Regions from separate parts of the Homo sapiens genome. Here region 1 is linked to region 2. Evidence: fine-mapped expression QTL. A gene starts in region 2. The other region holds a variant in brackets. All regions are shown on one strand. Distances are between the middles of the regions. Region 1 overlaps SCIMP (SLP adaptor and CSK interacting membrane protein). Region 2 holds the start of SCIMP (SLP adaptor and CSK interacting membrane protein).

What was found. PIP is the estimated chance that this variant, and not a neighbour inherited with it, causes the effect.
Region 1: its variant is fine-mapped to the expression of SCIMP in testis (GTEx, PIP 0.94).

What each region holds. Positions count from the first base shown.
Region 1 is chr17:5,207,417-5,219,726 of GRCh38, forward strand. It overlaps SCIMP (SLP adaptor and CSK interacting membrane protein), which reads right to left. Exons shown (of 5, transcript NM_207103.3): 4 at 7,509-7,582; 5 at 1,504-3,539. The coding sequence ends at 3,385. ZNF594-DT (ZNF594 divergent transcript) reads left to right here. Exons shown (of 6, transcript NR_152840.1): 2 at 2,334-2,479; 3 at 6,634-6,793; 4 at 7,731-7,877. Among named protein-coding and RNA genes, the nearest start is that of SCIMP, 21 kb to the right of the region's middle. RefSeq lists a silencer at 1,013-1,192. The variant A/C (reference allele first, on the strand shown) is at 5,668.
Region 2 is chr17:5,228,486-5,240,795 of GRCh38, forward strand. It overlaps SCIMP (SLP adaptor and CSK interacting membrane protein), which reads right to left and starts at 6,375. Exons shown (of 5, transcript NM_207103.3): 1 at 6,250-6,375. The coding sequence starts at 6,270. ZNF594-DT (ZNF594 divergent transcript) reads left to right here. Exons shown (of 6, transcript NR_152840.1): 6 at 6,629-7,518. RefSeq lists enhancers at 6,617-6,816, 8,762-9,061.

The DNA of each region.
Region 1 (12,310 bases), 21 kb before region 2:
AGGATCCAAAGGTGGGGAAGAATGTTTCATACAGAGGAATAGCGCTGTGCACAGGGCAAGAGGGACCATAGTGAAGGTCATTTTATTTTATTATTATTATTTTTTTTTTGAGATGGAGTCTTGCTCTGTCACCCAGGCTAGAGTGCAGTGGTGCAACCTAGGCTCACTGCAACCTCTGCCTCCCAGGTTCAGGTGATTCTCCTGCCTCAGCCTCCCGAGTAGCTGGGATTACAGGCATGTGCCACCACACCCGGCTGCGTTTTGTATTTTTAGTAGAGACGGGGTTTCACCATCTTGGCTAGGCTGGTCTCAAACTCCTGACCTCATGATTCACCCACCTCGGCCTCCCAAAGTGCTGGGATTACAGGTGTGAGCCACTGCGCCCGGCCTGTGAAGGTCATTTTAAGTGGCTGGAGCAAAAAACTTGGGCAGAGTGGAGGTTGCAAGGGGGTTGGGGGAGAAGAGTTTGGCAAAAGATAATCAGTGACCAGATCCTGACAAATCTTGTAAGCCATGTTAAAGAGTTTGGTCTTTTTCTGGGGTTAACGGGCAAAGAGAAGATTTAAGCAAAGGAATGAAGTGGTCAGATGTTCACTTTAGGAAGTCACTGGGTGCCATGTAGAAAGTGGACGGCAGGTGAGGTGCCAGAGGCAGGGGAGCAGTCAGGGGGCTGTTGATATTCTCCTGGCAAGCGCTGGCAATTGTCTGACCTCAGAACAGTGACGGAGAGACGTGGACTCATTGGAGAACCACGTGGGAGGCACAAGTAACATGGGGAGCTCTGGAAACAAAGCAGTGTGGGGAGAAGGATACTAGTTTCTGACTTCAGCAACTAAGAAGATAGTAGAGCACAAGACATTTGGGACTGGAGGTAGGTCATCAGTTCCTTTTGGTGTTTGCTGAACTTGAGGGGGTGTGTGGGGCAGTCACAACGAGATGTCTTAGAGGCAACCCAGCTGGGGAGAAAGAGCTCAGCTGAAGTCAGAATAGAGGGGGCAGCTGGGCGTGGTGGCTCACACTTGTAATCCCAGCACTTTGGGAGGCTGAGGCAAGCGGATCACTTGAGGTCAGGAGTTCAAGACCAGCCTGGCCAGCATGGTGAAACCCCGTCTCTACTAAAAACAAACAGAAAATTAGCCGGGTGCAGGCGTGTTGGCACACACCTGTAATCCCAGCTACTCAGGAGGCTGAGGCAGGAGAATCGCTTGAACTTGGGAGGGGGAGGTTGCAGTGAGCTGAGATTGTGCCACTACACTCCAGCGTGAGTGACAGAATGAGACTCAGTCTCAAAAAAAAAAAAAAGGAGGGGCCCACTGAGCTCATGGACATTGGTGAGATCACTCGTGAGTGTTGGAGGCAGATGGGCAGAGACACAGGGACAGAACCTGAGGAAGACCAGCATTGAAGAGATGCTTCAGAAAGAGTGGGTGGCCCCAAAATGAGACGGAGACAGGAGGAGAACCAGGAGAGGGTGGCGTCCCAGAAACCAAGGAAGAATCAACATTTGTCTGGCATTTGTTTTTAACTTTTGTCATAGTCATGGAGGGTTTACAGAACATTTATAAGACGAAAGCATGTGTTTGAAACACTCCAATCCTTTGGCTTATTTTTGTTCTATAATTTGGGAAGAGTCCTCTCTTTGGCTGGTGGGATACCAGAGTCCCATAAGGCCATAGTTAGATAACTACTGGCCTAACATAAGGAGGGTTTATTTATTTATTTATTTATTTATTTTTAGATGGAGTTTCACTCTTGTTGTCCAGGCTGGAGTGCAATGGCATGTTCTCGGCTCACCGCAACCTCCGCCTCCCAGTTTCAAGCGATTCTTCTGCCTCAGCCTCCCAAGTAGCTGGGATTACAGGCATGCGCGACCATGCCTGACTAATTTTGTATTTTTAGTAGAAATGGGGTTTCTCCATGTTGGTCAGGCTGGTCTCGAACTCCCGACCTCAGGTGATCCGCCCACCTTGGCCTCCCAAGGAGGTATTAATAGCAAGGTGGAAGCCTTCATAGAGTCTGGAAAGAGAGAACCAGGGAGGAAGCCCAGGTCCCCAGTGCTCCAGCGTTGATTGAGGGAGAAAGCTTGAAAATGGGAGGAACACATTTTCCCATCTCTTGAGGGAAATCTGAGTCACTCTCAGGCCTTTCCAGGTTCACAGTGCTCTCTCTGCAAGGCTGTTCATTTGCCAGATTTCCCAGAGGTCACTTAGAAACCAGCATCTTGTGAGTATAGTTAGAATGAGTCAAGTCCTAGGGCTCTGGCGATCAGCTAGAAGGAATTGATGAGGTCTAAGAGCCTATAAAGCTGACTCGGGCCTTGTTGACCCCATTAGGACACTTGTTTAACAAGACATCTGCCCATGTCCCTGGCCCATCTCATTGGCTGCAGCACATCACAGTGGACCTTCTGCCTCCTCCCAGATGCCCAGGGACAGTGATCTGGAAGGAAGGGGCTTGAGGCTGTTTTCCTAGAACTCGAGTAAGTACTGATGAAAATGATGGACAGGGGATATTAAGCCCCCTGAACTCTCATCTTGTATATGCCATTGTTACATGCCCCTTTTCTTTCCTGTTCCCCATGATTTGTCCTGGGGGAAATGTATTTTTCCTGTAGCACCCCCAACACACCTATTGCAAAATGATGCTTCTAGGTGTAAATCAGAAGGTAACTTTTGTCCTTTGTCCATTGTTACAGTACAACTTGCAAGCACGGGGAGAAAACCTAGGTGAAAACTCAAATCTCTATGGTCAATTTGGCCTACATCATATAAAGGCACTGGGGTTTGCAGGGTGTCTAGGTGGGGAGGGTTCACGAGAACAAAAGGTACTCCCTGCCCTTGCAAACTCGCGAGATGTGGTGTGGGAACCTGGGCACGAGAGCACTCAGCTGTAACTCACCCACAGCCTCACAGTGCAGGAGGTGGGTGGGGTGAGAGGGTAAAGACCAGCATGCTTGGTGAGGGCCTTGCTGGGGATGGGAGCCTGGGAGGGTCTGCACAACCAAATGCTGAGATTTAATATCACTCAGAACCATGCAAACCAAAGGGAATGAAGGGGGAAAGAATGCCAAGAAATGAGTAGTTTCCCACAGGTGGGAGCCATGGAGCCCCGTGGTCCTTCCCATGGAAAGTTTCCTCAACAGCACAAGGCTGACCCCTCTAAGTCCTCAGAGCCGAGCACCCATGTGTCTCCTCTGGCTGCAGTCATCCGATCGCAGGGGTGTCTTCATCTAAGGTTTGGGAAGTGCTTTATCTTATAGAGCTTCATAAAATCACCACTGGCTTTCAGGGCCCAGAGACCTACTGAAGTTCAACCATTCTTGATTGTTTTAAAATAAGTTGTGTGAACCCTCTTCAGTTTTGCCAAAAAGAAGAAATGGCTGTTTCAAAATGATGCTTTTTCAGTATTTGCAGGGATTTCAACATCGTCATAGTCATCTTCAGGCTCAATGTAGCTTGGGATGGAAACAGTCTTCTTATTTTTAACTTTATTTACCAGTGAGTATGTAGCGGGCGGCTGACTTGGGGCTTCCTGTGGGGCTAGAATACACAAAAAGCTCCTTAGATGCAAAGCTGTCATGTGTTTTTATATTTTTGAAGGCAGTGGCTCAGCGTGATTTTCACGTTTCAGTGATCTTCCCACTTCTAGTGGGCCAGATCCCCATTTTACAGAGGAAATTTAGACACAGACCTGACAGAGCCTCAGGATCACCCAAGTGAGTAACTGGAAAATATTAGTCAGACATCTTGACTCCCGTATCTTTCTGCCTAAGCCTGCACTGCATGGAAACCATGAAGCAAAAGCTTAGAAAAGAAACAGACCAGGTCAGGTGCAGAAGCTCACACCTGTAGTCCCAGTACTCTGGGAGGCCCAGGTGGGAGGATCACTTGAGCCCAGGAGTTCCAGACCAGCTTGGGCAACACAGGGAGACCCTCGTCCCTACAGAAAAATTTAAAAATTAGCCGGATGTGGTGGTGCATGCCTATAGTCCCAGCTAATTGGGAGGCTGAGGCAAGAGGATTTCCTGAGCCCAGGAGGTTAAGGCTACAACGAGCCATGATCACGCCACTGCACTTCAGCCTGGACAACATGGTAAGACCCTGTCTCCAAAAAAAAAAAAAGAATGGATGAAAAGAAACAGACCAGAGCCCAGTAGTCATATGAGTGCTGTTGTGTTACAGATCCTAATTTTTACAAGGAAGTGAAACAAATCATATTTCCTTTTTGGCACATCCCTTCCAGTGACTTACACTGTTTTCCAGGACTCTCTGTAATTGCTTATGTACAAATCTCTCTAAGAAGAAAGGGGATGGCGTTGTTTTCAAAAGGTGGAATTAGTACAGAACAGGTTCATAGGAGGCTGGGGCGCGGTGGCTTATGCCTGTAATCCCAGCACTTTGGGAGGCTGAAGTGGGCAGATCACCTGAGGTCGGGAGTTCGAGACCAGCCTGATGAAACTCTGTCTCTACAAAAATACAAAAATTAGCTGGGCGTGATGGCGGGTGCCTATAATCCCAGCAACTCGGGAGGTTGAGACAGGAGAATTGCTTGAACCCAGGTGGCAGAGGTTGCAGTGAGCCAAGATTGCACCATTGCACTCTAGCCTGGGCAACAGAGCGAGACTCTGTCTCAAAAAAAAAGAAAGAAAGAAAGAAAAAGAAACAAAAAACAAACAAAAAGAACAGGTCCATAAGTAATAGAAGGATGATGAAACAGCTCAGCTCCATCTTTGATGGGGATTGGAACTGCCTCTCCCACAATCTCATCTTTTCCTAAGAAAACCTGAAATGCCACTATTTGCAGAACTCTGCAGTTTGACAGACCAGAGTTCATGTTCACGTTCCAGCAGTCATTAGCTGTGTGACTATAGGTAAGTCACTTATCTGTGCCTGAGCATCCTCATCTGTCACAGAGGAATAAAAATGTACCTGGCTTGGGCCGGGCGCGGTGGCTCACGCCTGTAATCCCAGCACTTTGGGAGGCTGAGGTGGGTGGATCACGAGGTCAGGAGATCGAGATCATCCTTGCTAACATGGTGAAACCCCATCTCTACTAAAAATACAAAAAATTAGCCAGGCATGGTGGCAGGCACCTGTAGTCCCAGCTACCCAGGAGGCTGAGGCAGGACAATGGCATGAACTCGGGAGGTGGAGCTTGCAGTGAGCCGAGATTGCGCCACTGCACTCCAGCCTGGGCGACAGACCGAGACTCCATCTCAAAAAACAAACAAACAAAAAAATGTACCTGGCTTGTAGAGTTGTGAGGAGTGAATGAGCTAATACCTGTAAAGTGCTTAGTGTGGGACCTGAAACACAGCGCATGCTCAATAAATGTTAGCTAATATTATTTATCTATCCAATCAAAATATTTTTCTTAAGTATCGACTGAGCCTCACGCCCTGTTCTAGGTAGTGGATAAATATTAATAGTGGTGGACAAAAAAGGTTCCTGTGTTCCTGAAGTTTATACTCCAGTGGAGGAGATCAATAATACATAAATGAACAATAAGTAAATAACACAATTTTGGATAACTGTCAGTTTCATAAAGGAAATTAGCAGAACTACTTTAGGTTGAGTGGACAGAGAGGGCCTCTTTGAGGTGGTAACTTCTGAGCTGACATCTGAAGGATGAGGAAAATCCAGCGAGGCAAAGAGCTTAAGGAAGAAC[A/C]TTCCAGTCAAAGGAACCAGGCAGAGTTTTTCTGATAGGAAGTGAAAGGCCTAGTGACACCCCATGTTTCTTTCTGTTTATGTTCCAAGCTGGGATTTGAACATGAATTTACACCCTTATATCAGGCTATTGGGTGCGTCGGTACTTATGCTGCCCCCTTTTTGCTTTTCCATCCCTTTTTTTTTTTTTTTTGAGACAGGGTCTCACTCTGTCGTCCAGGTGCAGTGATGCTATCGTGGCTCACTGCAGACCTCCCAGGCTCAAGCGATCCCCCCACCTCAGCCTTCCAAGTAGCTGGGACTATAAGTGTGCACCATCACGCTGGCTAATTTTTGTAAAGATAGGATTTTGCCATGTTGCCCAGGCTGTTCTCAGACTCCTGAGCTCAAGTCATCAGCCCGCCCTGGCCTTCCAAAGTGTTGGTATTACAAGCATATGCCACTGTGCCTGGCCTCTGGCTATCTCTTTTAAACAGGATGCTGGCTGTGTGTGGTGGCTCATGCCTGTAATCCCAGCACCTTGGGAGGTCGAGGCGGGTGGATCACTTGAGGTCAGGAGTTCAAGACGAGCCTGGTCAATATGGTGAAACCCCGTCTCTACTAAACATACAAAAAATTAGCTGAGTGTGGTGGTGCACGCCTATAATCCCAGTTACTCAGGAGGCTGAGGCAGGAAAATAGCTTGGACCTAGGAAGTGGAGATTGCAGTGAGCTGAAATCATGCCACTGCACTCCAGCCTGGGTGAGAAACCAAGACTCTGCCTCAAAAATAAAATAATCAGGATGCTGCATCTATAAATCCTAGTGTTACAGACTGAATGTTTGTGTCCCCCCAAAATTCAGGTGTTCAAGCCTTAACCCCCAGTGAGGCTATATGTGGCCATAGGGATGAGGCCTTGATCCAACAGGATCAGTGTCCTTGTAAGAAGAAACACCAGAAATCTGACTCCCTGATGCTCTTCCCCAGCTTGAATGCACCAAGGAAAGGCCATTTGTGGGGACATAGCAAGAAGGCAGCTGTCTGCAAGCCAGGAGGAGAACCCTCACCAGAAACCTCACAGAAATCGGCCAACACCCTCATCTCGGGCTTCCAGCTTCAGAACAACGAGAAAACAAATTTCTGTTGTGTAAGCACCCCAGTCTATGGTATTTTTGTTACAGCAGCCTGAGCTATCTAAGACACCTTCATAGGGGACGGGCGTGGTGTCTCACACCTGTAATCCCAGCACTTCGGGAGGCCGAGGTGGACAGATCATGAGGTCAGGAAATTTAGACCATCCTGGCTAACATGGTGAAACCCCGTCTCTACTAAAAATACAAAAAATTAGCCAGGCGTGGTGGTGGGCACCTGTAGTCCCAGCTACTCAGGAGGCTGAGGTGGGAGAATGGTGTGAACCTGGGAGGCGGAGCTTGCAGTGAGTGGAGATCGCGCCACTGCACTCCAGCCTGGGGGACAGAGCGAGACTCCATCTCAAAAACAAAAAAAAGTGGCTCACGCTTATAATCCCAGCACTTTGGGAGGCCGAGGCCGGTGGATCACGAGGTCAGGAGATCGAGACCATCCTGGCTAACGCGGTGAAACTCCTTCTCTACTAAAAATACAAAAAATTAGCTGGGCGTGGTGGCGGGTGCCTGTAGTCCCAGCTACTCCGGAGGCTGAGGTAGGAGAATGGCATGAACCCGGGAGGCGGAGCTTGCAGTGAGCCGAGATCGTGCCATTGCACTCCAGCCTGGGTGACAGAGCAAGACTCCATCTAAAAAAAAAAAAAAAAAAAAAAAAGACACCTTGATAAACTCGTTATCTTACCCTAAATGAAACTGCTACCAGTAAAATATACTTACAAGAGTCTTCTAGAGAAGGCCAATTCCTCGGTGGCAGAGGCGGTAATTGAACTGGCGACTCATTAAGAACATTCCTAGAGAGAGAGAAAGAGAGAGAATCAGTGTTTGGTTTGGGCCATGCCTGCTCCCAGCCGATTTAAGAGAAAACATCAAGGAAAGTGAATGGGTTGAACATTCAAATCTTGGTCTCTACTAATTGGAAGCATTTCCTTTCCTTTGTAGGTCCTGGTTCCCATTTGTAATTGGCACCCTAATGAAACCGTTTTCTGTAGCCCTGGAAATGGCTGAAAATGAGGGGAGGGAAATAAAGTGCTATAATTCAGAGCATGGAGCACACCTTCCTGGTTCACCTGAGCTGGATTCGGAGAGGTAGGCACCAGATGTATTTCTATTTGCAAAACAGATGAGCCGGGCATGGTGGCGCATGCCTGTAATCCCAGCACTTTGGGAGGCCGAGGCAGGCGGATCACCTGAGGTCAGGAGTTCAAGACCAGCCTGGCCAATATGGTGAAACCCTGTCTCTACTTAAAAATACAAAAATCAGCTGGGCATGATGATGCTCACCTGTAATCCCACCTATTCGGGAGGCTGAGGCAGGGGAATCACTTGAACTTCGGAGGCGGAGGTTGCAGTGAGCCGAGATCATGCTACTGCACTCCAGCCTAGGCAACAGAGTGAGACTCTGTCTCAAAACAAACAAATAAAAAAACAAAAAACAAAAGCAGATGAACTCCTAAAGCAGAATGTACACACACCTTGAGTCAGCATTTCCACTACTGGGTCTACAGACTATTGAAATGCTCGCATCTGTTCACCAAAACATGCATTAGAATGTTCAGAGCAACACTATTCATAACAGCTCTGAATTGGACACGACCTGTATTAGTCTGGGTTGTCCAGAGAAGCACAGACACATAAAATTTGCCATCACACAACTCAAATGTCCATCAGCAGTAGAATGGATAGATTAATTATGGTAAAGTGACTGGGCAAGGTGGCTGACATTGGTAATCCCAGCACTTTGGGAGGCGAAAGAGGGAGGATGGCTTGAGCCCAGGGGTTTAAGGGTAATATAGGGAGACCCTGGGCAACACAGGGAGACCCAGTCTCTACAAAAAAATCAACATAATTAGCAGGTTGTGGTGGCATACACCTGTAGTCCCAGCTACTCAGGAGACTGAAGCAAGAGGATCACTTGAGCCCAAAATTTGAGGTGACAGTGAGCTATGATTGCACCACTGTACTCCAACCTGGTTGAGAGTGAGACCTTGTCTCAAAATAAATAAATAAATAAATAAATACTGGTGTACTCCCACGGTGGAATGTTCTATAGCAACAAGAATGAACAATCTACAACTACACACAATGAATCTCATAAAAATGATGTTGAGCAAAAAAGCCAAACACCAAATAATATATACTATATGATGCCATTAATAGATTGCATAAAAACCAAAAAGCTGCTGGGCACGGTGGCTCATGCCTGTAATTCCAGCACTTTGGGAGGCCAAGGCAGGCAGATCATGAGGTCAGGAGATCGAGACTAGCCTGGCCAACATGATGAAACCCAGTCTCTACTAAAAATACAAAAATTAGCCAGGTGTGGTGGCGCATGCCTATAATCCCAGCTACTCAGGAGGCTGAGGCAGAAGAATTGCTTGAATCTGGGAGGCGGAGGTTACAGAGAGCCAAGATCGCGCCACTGCACTCCAGCCTGGGCAACAGAGTGAGACTCCATCTCAAAAACAAAAAAACAAAAAACAAAAAAAACCCAAAAAGCTAATTTATACTATCACAGACAGTGATTGCCTTTGGGATGTAATGGTTGAAAGGCTGTATAAAGTCAGCCTCTGAAGTGCTGGTAACGTCCTATTTCTTGATCTGGGTGCCAGTGACCTGGGTCTGTTGAGTTCGTGGAAATTCATCAGGTTGCACACTCAGTATTTCCATTTTCCTGTATTTATATGATACTTTGGTACAAAGTTTTAACTAAAAGATAAACTCTAAGAAAACTTCCTTACTTGGGCCTCCATCCCCCTAGGTACACTGATTTGACTCCTATATGCTATAAAGTCCCCCTGAGAATGAATAAACATTTTTAGGTTGTTAGGTTGAGTGCAGACGGGGACATGGGGGTAGAGCTCCACCGGCGGCTCTCACCATCCCTCTGTAGCTCTTCCTAAGAGAAGAAAGCAACTCATCTGACTGCTAAATTTGGGAAAAGTCTAGCTCCTCTCACTTTCTCCTCCAGAGCTGGCCTGACTGCAGAATTCACAAATCCTGCTCTGGTCTTTGCCATTCAGAAAAAGGGGTCTACTCGGTGGGGGAGACCTGAGGTTTTCCGGAGCTGCCTGTGAACTGGTTAGGAAAGTCACCCGGTTCCAAATTAGGAAACTCACTAGCTCACAGAAAAGAGCCACATTCTGCAATCCCAGTTTTATTCTTTTTTGTTTGCTTGTGTGTGTGTGTGTGTGTGTGTGTGTGTGTTTGTTTTATTATTATTATACTTTAAGTTTTAGGGTACATGTGCACAACGTGCAGGTTTGTTACATGTGTATACGTGTGCCATGTTGATGTGCTGCACCCATTAACTCGTCATTTAGCATTAGGTATATCTCCTAATGCTATCCCTCCCCCCTCCCCCCACCCCACAACAGTCCCCGGTGTGTGATGTTCCCCTTCCTGTGTCCATGTGTTCTCATTGTTCAATTCCCACCTATGAGTGAGAACATGCGGTGTTTGTTTTTTTGTCCCTGCGATAGTTTGCTGAGAATGATGGTTTCCAGTTTCATCCATGTCCCTACAAAGGACATGAACTCATCATTTTTTATGGCTGCATAGTATTCCATGGTGTATGTGTGCCACATTTTCTTAATCCATTCTATCGTTGTTGGACATTTAGGTTGGTTCCAAGTCTTTGCTATTGTGAATAGTGCTGCTATAAACATACGTGTGCCTGTGTCTTTATAGCAGCATGATTTATAGTCCTTTGGGTATATACCCAGTAATGGGATGGCTGGGTCAAATGGTATTTCTAGTTCTAGATCCCTGAGGAATCGCCACACTGACTTCCACAATGGTTGAACTAGTTTACCGTCCCACCAACATTTTTTTTTTTTGAGACAGGGTCTCACTTTGACACCCAGGCTGGAGTTCAGTGGCACGATCACAGCTCACTGCTGCCCTGACCTCAGGGGTTCAAGCAATCCTCCCACCTCAGCCTCCCAAGTAGCTGGGACTACAGGCAGACACCACCACACCTGGCTAATTTTGGTATTTTTCTCAGATATGGGTCCCCACTATGTTGCCCAGGCTGGTTTCAAACTCCTGGCCTCAAGCCATCCTCCCACTTGGGCCTCCCAAGTGCTGGGATTATAGGCATGAACCACTGCCCCTGGCCAATACCAGTTTTAGTTTTTTGCTTTTTTTTTTTTGAGACTGAGTTTCACTCGTCACCCAGGCTGGAGTGCAGTGGCACGATCTTGGATCACTGCAACCTCCACCTCCTGGGTTCAAGCAATTCTCCTGCCTTAGCCTCCCAAGTAGCTGGGATTACAGGCACACACCACCATGCCCAGCTAATTTCTGTATTTTTAGTAGAGACAGGGTTTCACCATGTTGGCCAGACTGGTCTCGAACTCCTGACCTCAGGTGATCTGCCTGCATCGGCCTCCCAAAGTCTGGGATTACAGGTGTGAGCTGCTGCACCTGGCCCCAGTTTTATTCTTAAAAAAGGCAATATTTAGTCACCTGACTGCCTGACACATTTGTCTTATTCTTGAAAGGGATCAGAATTGATGGAGGCAGGGGGAGTCTTATTTGCTGGATCCCTGAAGCTACAACAAAAGCCATTTTAGAAAAGCAGAGATTTAAAAATGTTTTGTATACAGGGTCTCACTATGTTGTCCAGGCTGGTCTTGAACTCCTGGCCTCAAGTGATACTCCCACTTTGGCAAAGTGCTGAGATTACAGGCATGAGCCACTGCACCTCGCCCCAAGTGTAAGTTTTGTTTTAGATAGTGTGTATACTCCAAAGAAAGGACTGGCTCTTGACTGGCTCCTGGGAAATAATCTCTAAACCCTTGGAATATTCTTCCTAATAAGAGTGTCTCCGGCCGGGCGTGGTGGCTCACGCCTGTAATCCCAGCACTTTGGGAGGCCGAGATGGGCAGATCACGAGGTTAGGAGTTCGAGACCAGCCTGGCCAACATAGCGAAACCCCGTCTCTACTAAAAATACAAAAAATTAGCCAGGTGTGGTGGCGCGCGCCTGTAATCCCAGCTATTCAGGAGACTGAGGCAGGAGAATCACTTGAACCTGGGAGGCAGACGTTGTGGTGAGCCGAGATCGCGCTATTGCACTCCAGCCTGGGTGACAGAGCGAGACTCTGTCTCAACAACAACAAAAAAAGTGTCTTTGAGGCCGGGCATGGTGGCTCACACTTGTAATCCGAGCACTTTGGGAGGCCAAGGTGGGTGGATCACTTGAGGTCAGGAGTTCCAGACCAGCCATGGCCAACATGGTGAAACGCCATCTCTACTAAAAATACAAAAATTAGCTGGGCATAGTGGCAGGTGCCTGTAATCCCAGCTGCTTAGGAAGCTGAGGCAGGAGAAGCACTTGAACCTGGGAGGCAGAGGTTGCAGGGAGCCGAAATCACGCCATTGCTCTCCAGCCTGGGTGACAGACTGGGACTCCATCTCGTAAATAAATAAATAAAGAGTGTCTTTGTATATCTGGGAGCCTTGGGCCACACCAGATAGTTTATGTTAATAATGTGGTTTATGGTGAATGCCTGTTTT
Region 2 (12,310 bases):
AAATTAAAAATTTGCCAGGCAAGGTGGTGCATGCCTATAGTCCCAGCTACTCAAGAAGCTTAGGTGAGAGGATTGCTTGAGCCCAGGGATTCGAGGCTACATTGGGCCATGAATGTGCCACTGCACTCCAGCCTGAGTGACAGAGTAAGACCCTGTCTCAAAAAAAAAAGAAAAAACAGTGAAATGCATTTTTCTTCCAACTGAGCCTGTGACAGTGACAGTTGTCTCTTGGTGTATTTGTTCTTTTTATTTGTTTGTTCCTTGTCTGTCTCCCACACTGATGGGCAAGCAGCATAAGAGCAGAGGCTTTGCCTGTAATTACCACTGTGTTTCTAGCGCCTAGAACATCACCTGGGGCAGGACATACCATACATATCTGTGAATATACGAAAGAATGGATGATGCCCCAGTCTCTTTCCCCTGCTATAGATGGACCTCCCACCCGAGAATGCAGGCAGAAGTCACTTTGGGTCCAGTAACTGAAATTACTGTGCTGTGCAGTCTAATTCCAAAGCCTCATCTGGACACGCGACCCTGGGCAGGCTCCCCGTCCTGCGCTGGCCATTGGCTACTGGGGCCAAGAGGCTGGCTGGGAAGCAGTGGCAATCCAATGCTGGGGAGGTGGAGTTCCAGCTTCCCCTTTGTTTCTCCCCATTCCTCTAGTTGTCCATGACATTTTCAAGGAACATGAGTGAGCCTGTTGCAGTTCTGGGTGGTTTCAGTGGAAAGGATTTGGCAAGACCTTCCACAGTGAAGAGGGCGTGTGAGTGGGAGAGCAACTGAAGGCAGTCAACACATCAGCTTCACTTTCATTTCTCCAAAGGGCATTTCCAGGGTGTCAGGGACAGAAATCACATTTTCCTTCACCAGGAATTTCTGAGACTGTGGGTTTATTTAGCTTTTTTTTTTTTTTTTTTTTTTTTTTTGAGACAGAGTCTTGCTCTGTTGCCCAGGCTGGAGTGCAGTGGCGCGACCTTGGCTCACTGCAACCTCCATCTCCCCGGTTCAAGCAATTCTCCTGTCTTAGCCTCCCAAGTAGCTGGGACTACAGTCGCACGCCACCATGCCCGGCTAATTTTTATATTTTTAGTAGAGATGGCGTTTCACACCATATTGGTCAGGCTGGTCTTGAACTCCTGACTTCAGGTGATCCACCCGCCTTGGCCTCCCAAAGTGCTGGGATTACAGGCATGAGCCACTGCGTCCGGCGTATTTAGCATTTTTAAAAGAAGATCTTCAGTAAGAAATATGGTTTACGTTGTGATAGTTATTCACGTATTCACATAAATGAAGCGCTGAAGGGCCCTAGGCTGGCCATCAAGGGAACAAGTTCCCCTCCCCTCCCCTTCCCCCATCTCCTTTCTCCCCTCTTCTCCTTTCTCCTCTCTGCTCCTCTCCTCTCCACTCCTCTCCTCTCCGGTCCTCTCCTCTCTCCTTTCTCCTCTCCTCTTCTCTCCTTTCTTCTCTCCTCTCCTTTTTCTCCTCTCCTTTCCCTTCTTTTCCTTTTTGTAGAGACAAAAAAATGTTGTAGACACACAAAAAATGTTGCCTAGGCTGGTTTCAAACTCTGGGCCCCAAGTGATCCTCCGCCCCAGCCTCCCAAAGTACCAGGATTACAGGCATGAGCCACTGCACCTGGCCAGAGGGAATAGGTTTCCTGTTCCCACTTAGCTGTTGCACTTGGAATAAGATGCTTAACGTCTCCTTGCAGGCTTCTGAAAAGCTTCCAAGAGATGTTGCATGCAAAAGAGCTCTGTGTGCAGAAGATCACCAAGCATGAGGCATTATTAAGGGCAAACCAACCAAGTTCTATTTACAATAGCAAGTGTCTTCTAAGAAGGGCAGCTACCGACCAGGAGAGTCCCCTATTCTCCCTGCAGAGGATCTGCAGATCTGCAAAGCTGGCTGGGTTAGGAATGAAGTTTGCTGGTAGGAACTGGGGAATGTTGAATTCCTCTGGGTTATAGAAGGGGAGAATTTGGAGTTCTGGGAGGGAAGGTGATGAGAAGAAGGGATGGAAAGATGAAAAGGGAAGCCAGCAGGATGGTGCAAAGGTGGGAGTGAACCCGAGGGCTAGATTAGGCCTGCAGAACTTAACCTACCTTACTTGATTTTAGTCACTTGCTTCTAGTTGATCTTAAAACCTATATAGCTACTGGGGGCAGTGGCTCACACTTGTAATCCCAGCACTTTGGGAGGCCGAGGCTGGAGGATCACTTGAGCCCAGGAGTTCAAGACCAGCCTAGGCAACACAGCGAGACTTTCTCTCTACTGAAAATAAAAACAAAACAAAACAAAACAAAACAAAACCAGATGTGGCGGCATGTGCCTGTAGTCCCAGATACTCAGGAGGCTGAGGTGGGAGGATGGCTTGACTCTAGGAGATTGAGGCTGCAGTGAGCTGTGATTACCATCAGTGCACTCTAGCCTGGGTTATAGAGTGAGACCCTGTCTTTAAAAAAGAAAAAAGCCTATAGAGCTAAAAGTCATGTAGCTAAGCAATATTTAACTGGACTTCCACTAGCTTCCTGCTGGATAACATCTCTGACATATAGGTCATCATAGTAATGGTTGTTTAAGTTGTTTTTCAAGGGCTGGGCACGGTGGCTCACGCCTGTAATCCCAGCACTTTGGGAGGCCAAGGTAGGCAGATCACCTGAAGTCAGGAGTTCGAGACCAGCCTGGCCAAGATGGTGAAACCCCGTCTCTACTAAAAATACAGAAATTAGCCTGGTGTGGTGGCAGGCGCCTGTAATCCCAGCCACTCGGAAGGCTGAGGGAGAATCATTTGAACCCAGGAGGTAGAGGTTGCAGTGAGCCTCCAGGATCACGCCATTGCACTCCAGCCTGAGTGACGAGAGTGAAACTCCATCTCAAAAAAAAAAAAAGAAAAGAAAAAAAGTTGTTTTTCAGGAACTTGGGGTCAGCTCTTATCCAGTTCAAGCCACTTATGACCATCAATCCTTCAACTTGGTCTGTGTGAGTGTCCAGTAGGTGACGTTTGATGTCAGAGCGCCAAAAACTCCATCTTCCATCATGCTAATGCCACCATTTTGTGAACCTGCATCCTATGAAGAACGATGAAGCTTGACTAGGCTTGCACAGATTGCCGATGTCCTACTTTTCCCTCCAATCACCTTCCCCACACCTTAGGCCACCTGCTTCTTTGTCCCATAAACGTCTCTAAACCCCATCTTCGAGGAAGTGGGTTTGAGACCTGTTTTCCCATCTCCTCACTTGGCTGCCTCATGAATAAATGCATTCTGTGCTGCAAAACTGGTCATCTTGGCGGGACGCGGTGGCTCACGCCTGTAATCCCAGCACTTTGGGAGGCTGAGGCGGGCGGATCACGAGGTCAGGAGATCAAGACCATCCTGGCTAACACAATGAAACCCTGTCTCTACTTAAAAAATACAAAAAATTAGCCAGGCATGGTGGCAGGCGCCTGTAGTCCCAGCTACTCGGGAGGCTGAGGCAGGAGAATGGCGTGAACCCGGGAGGCGGAGCTTGCAGTGAGCCGAGATTGCGCCACTGCACTCCAGCCTGGGCGACAGAGCGAGACTCCGTCTCAAAAACAAAAAAAAAAAACTGGTCACCTCAGTGATTGGCTTACTGTGCGATGAGCAGAATGGGCCTCATTTGGTATCAAGAGGAGGAGCTGATAGAAAATGCTCAGGGATGGGCTGGCAAAGACATTTTCAGAGCAGCGCCGTGTTATGTTCTGTGTGCAGTTGTTTGCGCTGATGCGTTACAAGCCCCTCTGGTGGTCCCCCGCTGAGTCTTTGGTAAAGTCTGCTGCATCTGCCAATTCTTTTGTGAGCAGATTTGTTCTAGGGGTGTGGGGGACTAAGAAAGGGGTGGAATATAAACAGTGCAGTGTAAACAGTGCAGTATAAACAGTGCAGTATAAACAGTATAAACAGTGCAAACAGTGCAGTGTAAACAGCGCAGTGTAAACAGTTTTACCCACAGAGGCTGCAGGCCCATTGCTGACCATGGAAAAAGAGGTGGGCTCCTCGGGAGTCCACAGAAGTCCTGGGGAGGGCTTTGGACTTCGGCAGGCCTGGAATGAGGGTTCGAACTAATCTCAGTCTAGATCTCGAGGGTCTGAGAGGCTGTAGAGAACATTTAGGCCGGTTGGCATGAGCAGTTCTTGCCCCAGTTCACCTCTAATTCCCCGACTGTTGCTGTTCATGCTAAGTGAGGCCTTGTTCCCACTCGTTCTTCTTCTTTTTTTTTTTTTGAGATGGCGTCTTGCTCTGTCACCCAGGCTAGACTCCACTGGTGCAATCTCAGCTCACTGCAACCTCTACTTCCTGGTTCAAGCTATTCTCCTGTGTCAGCCTCCTGAGTAGCTGGGATTACCGACACGCACCACCATACCCGGCTAATTTTTGTGTATTTTTAGTAGAGATGGGGTTTTGCCATGTTGGCCTGGCTGGTCTCAAACTCCTGACCTCAAGTGATCCACCTGCCTCGGCCTCCCAAAGTGCTGGGATTACAGGCGTGAGCCACTGAGCCTCGCTCCACTTGTCCTTCTCACTGATGTCAGCACCAGAAATGGCCATGTGGATAGTCACTGGCAACTTAAAACCCAAGTGTGCATGGGGAAGTGCACGGCAGGGTCATTAAAAGGAGTCCAGCCTCTCTTCTTCCCTTCTCTATACTTTCACTTCTGGAAAAGACCGGAAACCTTGCCTCATTCCTCTTTCTCCCATGGCCCCATCCCCACCCCGCTTCAGCCCATCAGCCTCCAAATGTAGTCCAAGTCCTCATCTCTGTACCTGGACCATTGCATTTTCGCTGGCCCCTAGCCCCCACTGGGCTCCCCACTGGCTGCCAAATACCAGTGTGACCCTGTCCCTTCCTTGCTTTAAGCCTCTCAGTAGTTTGTTTGTTTGTTTTTGAGATGGAGTCTTGCTCTGTCACCAGGCTGGAGTGCAGTGACATAATCTTGGCTCACTGCAACCTCCACCTCCCGGGCTCAAACGATTCTCCTGCCTCAGCTTCCCGAGTAGCTGGGGCTATAGGCGCCCACCACCATGCCCAGCTAATTTTTGTATTTGTAGTAGAGACAGGGTTTCACCATGTTGGCCAGGCTGGTCTTGATCTCTTGACCTTGTGATCTGCCCACCTTGGCCTCCCAAAGTGCTGGGATTAGAGGCGTGAGCCACCATGCCCCGCCTGCCTCTCAGTAGTTATTTACCACTGAAGCAGAGTGAAGCCTGTGCTCCACATTGCTTCATGGCCAAGACCTCAGGGACAAGTGGACACACCAGGCAGTGGGAGTGGATATGGCAAAGCCAAACCCAGATCTCTTCTCAAAATAATTTTCCAGAGGGCAAAAGCAGATGGCTACACCGAGAACTCACGCCAGCCCAACACACTTTGATCTCGAGGCCTCTGGAAGGGAAGGTGCCTAATGAACTACTGAAAGCCAGAGATGCAATGACAAAGGTACCAAGACTGGAGGTGATCCAGGTCTTTCATCCAAGAGCCCCAAGACGTAGCCTAAATTCATGCTACGGTAATCCCAGCACTTTGGGAGGCCGAGGCGGGCGGATCACCTGAGGTCAGGAGTTCGAGAGCAGCCTGGCCAACATGGTGAAACTCCGTCTCTACTAAAAATACAGAAATTAGCCAGGTGTGGTGGCGGGTGCCTGTAATCCCAGCTACTCAGGAGGCTGAGGCAGGAGAATCGCTTGAACCCGGGAGGCGGTGGTTGCAGTGAGCCGAGATCACGTCACTGCACTCCAGCCTGGGCGACAAGAGCGAAACTCCATCTCAAAATAAAATAAAAATAAATAAATTGACACAGTCAGTGCCTCGCTCCCACCCCCACCTCCAGCATAGCACCATGACAGTCTTCTCACATAACAAGTCCCAAAACACACCATCGGCATCCAGAAAGTGAGAGTAACTCGTTACAGTTGAGACCTCTCACTCCCGGTCATTATCTCATTTCAATCCAAGAGGTAGACTTCTTCATCGCCCCTGACATACACATGAGGAAAAGGCCCAGAGAGGTGAAGTGATGCCTCAGGTCACTCAGCCAGTTACCAGTAGAGCAGATCCTTCAATGCAAGTTTTTCTCCAACCCTACACAGCAGTCGTACCAGGGCCCCAGGCTGCAATCCCCTGGCCCAGTGCTGATCGGTGGCTCCCAGGGACACGCCCTGATGCCAGCGCTGGCAGATGTCTGCTGTGAAGAGAGCAGGAAACTGTCCCTTGGAAAGCTGAGATGCTTACCTGAACTGTGAAAGTATCCATATGTGAGCAGCTAAGGAGACAGCAGTGGCTGGAGTGCTGCAGCTCAGGCACAGCTGGTGAGAGGCATTCCTCACTCACAGGCCTTCACCCACTGCTAGAGACAGTGAGCCCCATCCTGACCACTTCCCCTTTCTAGTCAGCCCACGGGGCAGAGACCCTGGCGTCATCTCTAGGCAACCATCCCTTTTCCAGGGAAGCTCATGACCCACGGCTGTCCAGAAGCCAGAATCTTCTCACTGCCCCGTGTCGCTCCCGCAAGGCCTACCAGAGGACCCTCATGGTGTGGTAGGGGGTCCTGGCAGGGGCCAGGGGCCAGGGTGGAGACTTGGCAGTGGGGGTGGGTTTGGTGTCCCCACAGACGAGTTTGCCGTGAGCATTCCTGGATGTGGCAACCTCAGTCTCAAGAAGAGCGACAGGACGCCAGCTCCCATGCAGAGACAGATCCAGGTAAGAAACCAGCTCATGTGTGACAAACTCACCATCTCACCATGAAGGTGACTCTTGAAAGCTCCTGTGCACCTTGGAACTGCTGAGACATCTTCTGCTTGGAGGAGGCAAGGGACAGGCTTCCTGTTTCTAAAGGCGTGTGAGTGGCGACCTTGAGAAATGTGGCCAGTGGAGCATTTTGACTGAGTTGGGTCCCCTCGTGCAATACTGTGAGACAGAACTCCCAGCGAGGCCCACGGCCTCTGACCATGGGGGTTGGAGTGGGGAAACCAATTAGCCATTTTGTTGAATTGGCTGGTTCTGACTCAAATGAGCAGTCACATTAGTAAAAATAGGCAAACGGATGTGCATTGTATTTGCCCAGAGCGAATGAGTTGTTATCCATTTCAGTAATAATGATAACCAGATATGTCTGATAAATATCTGATAATGTCTGATATATGTCTGGTAAATTTAACAAACACCGGGCTCTGGCTGGGTGCGGTGGCTCACACCTGTAATCCCAGCACTTTGGGAGGCCAAGGCGGGTGGATCACCTGAAGTCAGTAGTTCGAGACCAGCCTGGCCAACATGGTGAAACCCCATCTCTACTAAAAATACAAAAATTAGCTGGGCATTTTGGTGTGAACCGGTAGTCCCAGCTACTCAGGAGGCTGAGGCGGGAGAATTGCTTGGACCCGCGAGGTGGAGGTTGCAGTGAGCCAAGATCACACCATTGCGCTCCAGCCTGGGCAACAGAGCAAGACTCTATCTCAAACAAACAAAACAAAACATCTGGCTCAGAAGATTCCTGATTTGCAGTGTTTACTAATTTCTTTTTTCTTTTTCTTTCTTTCTTTCTTTTTTTTTTTTTTTTTTGAGATGCAGTCTCACTCTGTCGCCAGGCTGGAGTGCAGTGGCTCAATCTCAGCACACTGCAACCTCCGACTCCCAGGTTCAAGCAATTCTCCTGCCTCAGCCTCCCAAGTAGCTGGGACTACAGGTGTGTGCCACCGCATCCGGCTAATCTTTGTATTTTTAGTAGAGACAGGGTTTCACCATGTTGGCCAGGCTGGTCTCGAACTCCTGACCTCAAGTGATCCACCTGCCTCGGCCTCCCAAAGTGCTGGGATTACAGAGTTGAGCCACTGCACCTGGCCAAGGCCTGAACTCTTTCTTCTTAGGCTCATCCAAAGTTTAGCTGCTAAAAAACCTTCCTAAAAGCCAATTTAAAATTTTCTTCTAGGCCGGGCACAGTGGCTCACGCCTGAAATCCCAGCACTTTGGGAGGCCAAGGCAGGCGGATCATGAGGTCAGGCGTTTGAGACCAGCCTGGCCAACATGGTGAAATCCCGTCTCTACTAAAAATACAAAAATTAGCCAGGCATGGTGGCAGGTGCCTGTAGTCCCAGCTACTTGGGAGGCTGAGGCAGAAGAATCGCTTGAACCTGGGAGGCGGAGGTTGCAGTGAGCCGAGATCGAGCCACTGCACTCCAGCCGGGGTGACAGAGCAACACTCCGTCTCAAAAAAAAAAAAAAAAAAAATTCTCTTCTGAGGGGTGAATAAATGCTTCTGTGGATAGAGCTCATCCTAGGCTAACAAAGCTGTGACTTCTTGGTTTGTGTTTCATTCATTCATTCAATAAATTACTCAATAAATTATTTTGCTAACCTTTAAGGACCTCAGTTCAGCTGTGATATAGTAAACTCTGTAGCCCTACTATTTCTAACAATGCCTTTTGCACAGCAAGTTCAAGCCTGAGGTGTCAGGTGATCAGAATTCCAGGCCCGGTTTGACAAAACTTTCTTTGTGAATCCTTCCCTTCTCTGAGCCTCAGTTTCCTTGTTGTAAAATGAAAGAATTCAATTGACAAATATGAAAGTGCTCCAGGGATTTTGCCATCTGCCTTCAAGAAAGTCCCGCAAAGTGTAGGAGGAAGTTGAAGCCATAATATGATGCAGGCTAAATACAATGACCTTCAATTTGTGCCAGACCCTGTGCTCAACAAGTAGAGACTCAGAACTGGGCAAGTCATTCATGGGTAGAGCACATGGCACATGTTCTACAGGACAGAAGGCACATAAGTTATTACTATGCAAAGTGATGAATGCTAGTGCTGTGGAAGCACAAAAGTGGGAGAGAAGAAAGGGTCTGAGTGGTAGCATTTGAACTGGGCCTTGAAGGATGTGTAGGAGCTCACCAAATGGACAGAATGTGGACAGACACAAAGCAGCCATAGTATTTGGAGAGAAAGAGATGGTTGCATGGCTGATCAAGAGTGAATGTGTTGGGCAGTCAGAGGCTTGAGAGCAAAGTTTAGGGACACACACCACGGCATCTGGATCTACCCACTTCCTTGCTATCTACATTCTTCCCCGACTCCACCATTTGTCTTTCCACCACAAGAGGAGGGCAGGAAGTTGGGGCGGTTGTGTTCTTTCTGCACATCTGAAATGCCACCTGCTGGTCTGGGCAACTAAAGAGGTCCCTGAGGGCCCTAGATTAGCGGCTGGACCAGAGGGTGTCAAGGAGAATGAAGGGCACCCTCTAGTGGTCACCTGTGGTGCTTTCTCCTCAGGATTCTGGTCCCTCTGACCTCCCCGTAGGGATGGCTGGACACACAAGATGTTCACCTCTTAAAGCTACAGAGACCATCAGGCTAGAGGACACTCAGAAGGGATTCCAGTCCACCCTTCATCTCATGACTCAACCTTTTTGTCAACATCCGGGTGGCACCCAGCTTCTGCCGTTTTGTTTCTTCTCACTCAGTCATCTAAGTCATGTGTAAAATGAGGTGTTATTCTTTGTGCCACTCACAAGTGTCAATTAATCCCCATCATGAGAAAAAAACTGAAGAAAGAGAAATCATAAGATACAACATATAATTAGAACATTAATAGATTTTATTGCAGTTTTTAAAAAGGTGGGGGTTTTTGTTTGTTTTTGTTTTTGTTTTTGAGACAGAGTTTCGCCCTTATTGCCCAGACTGGAGTGCAATGGCGCGATCTTGGCTCACTGCAACCTCCACCTCCTGGGTTCAAGCAATTCTCCTGCCTCAGCCTCCAGAGTAGCTGGGATTACAGGCATGCGCCACCATGCCCTGCTAATTTCGTACTTTTAGTAGAGATGGGGTTTCTCCATGTTGGTTAGGTGGCTGGTCTTGAACTCCTAACATCAGGTGATCTGTCCACTTCAGCCTCCCAAAGTCCTGGGATTACAGGCATCAGCCACCACTCCGGGCACAATAACTCATCTTTAAAGAGCTCTGAGAGCAATATGGGTGGCCAAAGCACTCAGGTGGAACCAGAAGTCATCACTAAGCAACCGTGGCTGCTTTGTTTGTCCCTAACAATAGCCAAGCAGATGTTGTAGCTCCTCTGTCTCCCACCCTGGCCCCATGACATTGAGGTGGGGTCGTTCCAGCTCAGATGTAAAAAGGCAAGTGTATAAGTATTTGGGGTTGTGGCAGGAGGCAGCCGTGTCTTGTGTATGAAGGGAGTCCCTGCCCACTTCTCCCCATTTCTGGAGGTAAAGATTCCCATGAAAGGTACTAGGAGCATTGGGCCCCTAAACCCCAGAACCCATGAGTATGTTATTTTAGATGGTGAAAGGGATTTTGCAGATATGACTAAGGATTTTGAAGTGGGGAAGTCATGCAGGATTATCGACATGGACCCCATGTAATCACAAGATCCTTCTGAGAGGGATACAGGAGAGTCAGGGTCAGTGGCAGGGGATGTGCTGGCAGAGGCAAGAGACTGGGGAGATCCGAAGAAGGGGTCTCGAGCCAAGAAATGCAGGCAGTCTCAAGGAGCTGGTAATGGCTGGGCAATGGATTTTCCCCTGGGACAGGGATGGAGAGACAGCAGTGATTTCAGTTCTCACTCTTGAACCTTCTCTCTTCTTCGTTCCCAAACATGAGTCCACCAGCCCCATTACCACTCAACTGACTGGGAGCCACATCAACCATAACTCTTATGATTTACCAGTTGTAATACTTAAGCATTTTCTGTGGCCTGGCAATTTATTTATTTATTCATTTATTTTTGAGACGGTCTCACCCTGTCACTCAGGCTGGAGTGCAGTGGTGCAGTCGTGGCCCAACGCAGCCTCGAACTCCTGGGCTCAAGCGATCCTCTCACCTAAGCCTCCCAAGTAGCTGGGACCATAGGCATGCACCACCACACCTGGCTAATTTTTAAATTTTTTGTAGAGATGGGGGTCTCGCTATGTTTCCCAAGCTGGTCTCAAACTCCTGGCCTCAAGAGATTTTACCGCCTCGGCCTCCCGAAATGCTGGGATTACAGACATGAGCCACTGTGCCTGGCCTGGCAATTTAACCCAACTCAGTCATCTCTCCTCTGGACACTCTCCCCATGACATACTTTGCAATGGTTTTAAAATATGCTCATACATTTTTTTGACACTCCTCCCATTGAGCTGTGGGAATCTATGTCCCCTCTACTCAAAAGTGGGCTGACGTTAGTGACTCACTTATAACACTGACTGTAGGGGAAGGAAAGCTGCTTAACTTTTGAGGATAAAAAATTATGCAGCTTTGGGCGGGACGCGGTGGCTCACGCCTGTAATTCCAGCACTTTGGGAGGCCGAGGCGGGTGGATCATGAGGTCACGAGTTCAAGACCAACCTGGCCAGTGGAAGGTCCCCTGAATGGGCTACCCCATGGTCGAGCCATTGTGACCCCTGTGACCCACACGTTACAGGCCTCCTGGAGTCACAAAGCCTGGAGCAACAGGAGAACCACTAAAGAAGACGGAACAGCTAGTTCCTGCCTTAATGATTAACCGACCTTGCAACAGTCCACCTTGTGATATGTTCCTGCCCTTCCCCAACTAATCCATCCACCTTGTGATATGTTCCTGCCCTTCCCCAACTAATCCATCCACCTTGTGATATGTTCCTGCCCTTCCCCAACTAATCCATCCACCATTGTGACATGTTCCTGCCCTTCCCCAACTAATCCATCCACCATTGTGACATGTTCCTGCCCTTCCCCAACTAATCCATCCACCTTGTGATATGTTCCTGCCCTTCCCCAACTAATCCATCCACCTTGTGATTGTTCCTGCCCTTCCCCAACTAATCCATCCACCACTGTGATATGTTCCTGCCCTACCCTAACTAATCCATCCACCTTGTGATATGTTCCTGCCCTTCCCCCAACTAATCCATCCACCACTGTGATATGTTCCTGCCCTTCCCCAACTAATCCATCCACCTTGTGATATGTTCCTGCCCTTCCCCAACTAATCCATCCACCACTGTGATATGTTCCTGCCCTTCCCCAACTAATCCATCCACCTTGTGATATGTTCCTTCCCTACCCTAACTAATCCATCCACCTTGTGATATGTTCCTGCCCTTCCCCAACTAATCCATCCACCTTGTGGCATGTTCCTGCCCTTCCTCAACTAATCCATCCACCACTGTGACATGTTCCTGCCCTACCCTAACTAATCCATCCACCTTGTGATATGTTCCTGCCCTTCCCCAACTAATCCATCCACCTTGTGGCATGTTCCTGCCCTTCCTCAACTAATCCATCCACCACTGTGACATGTTCCTGCCCTACCCTAACTAATCCATCCACCT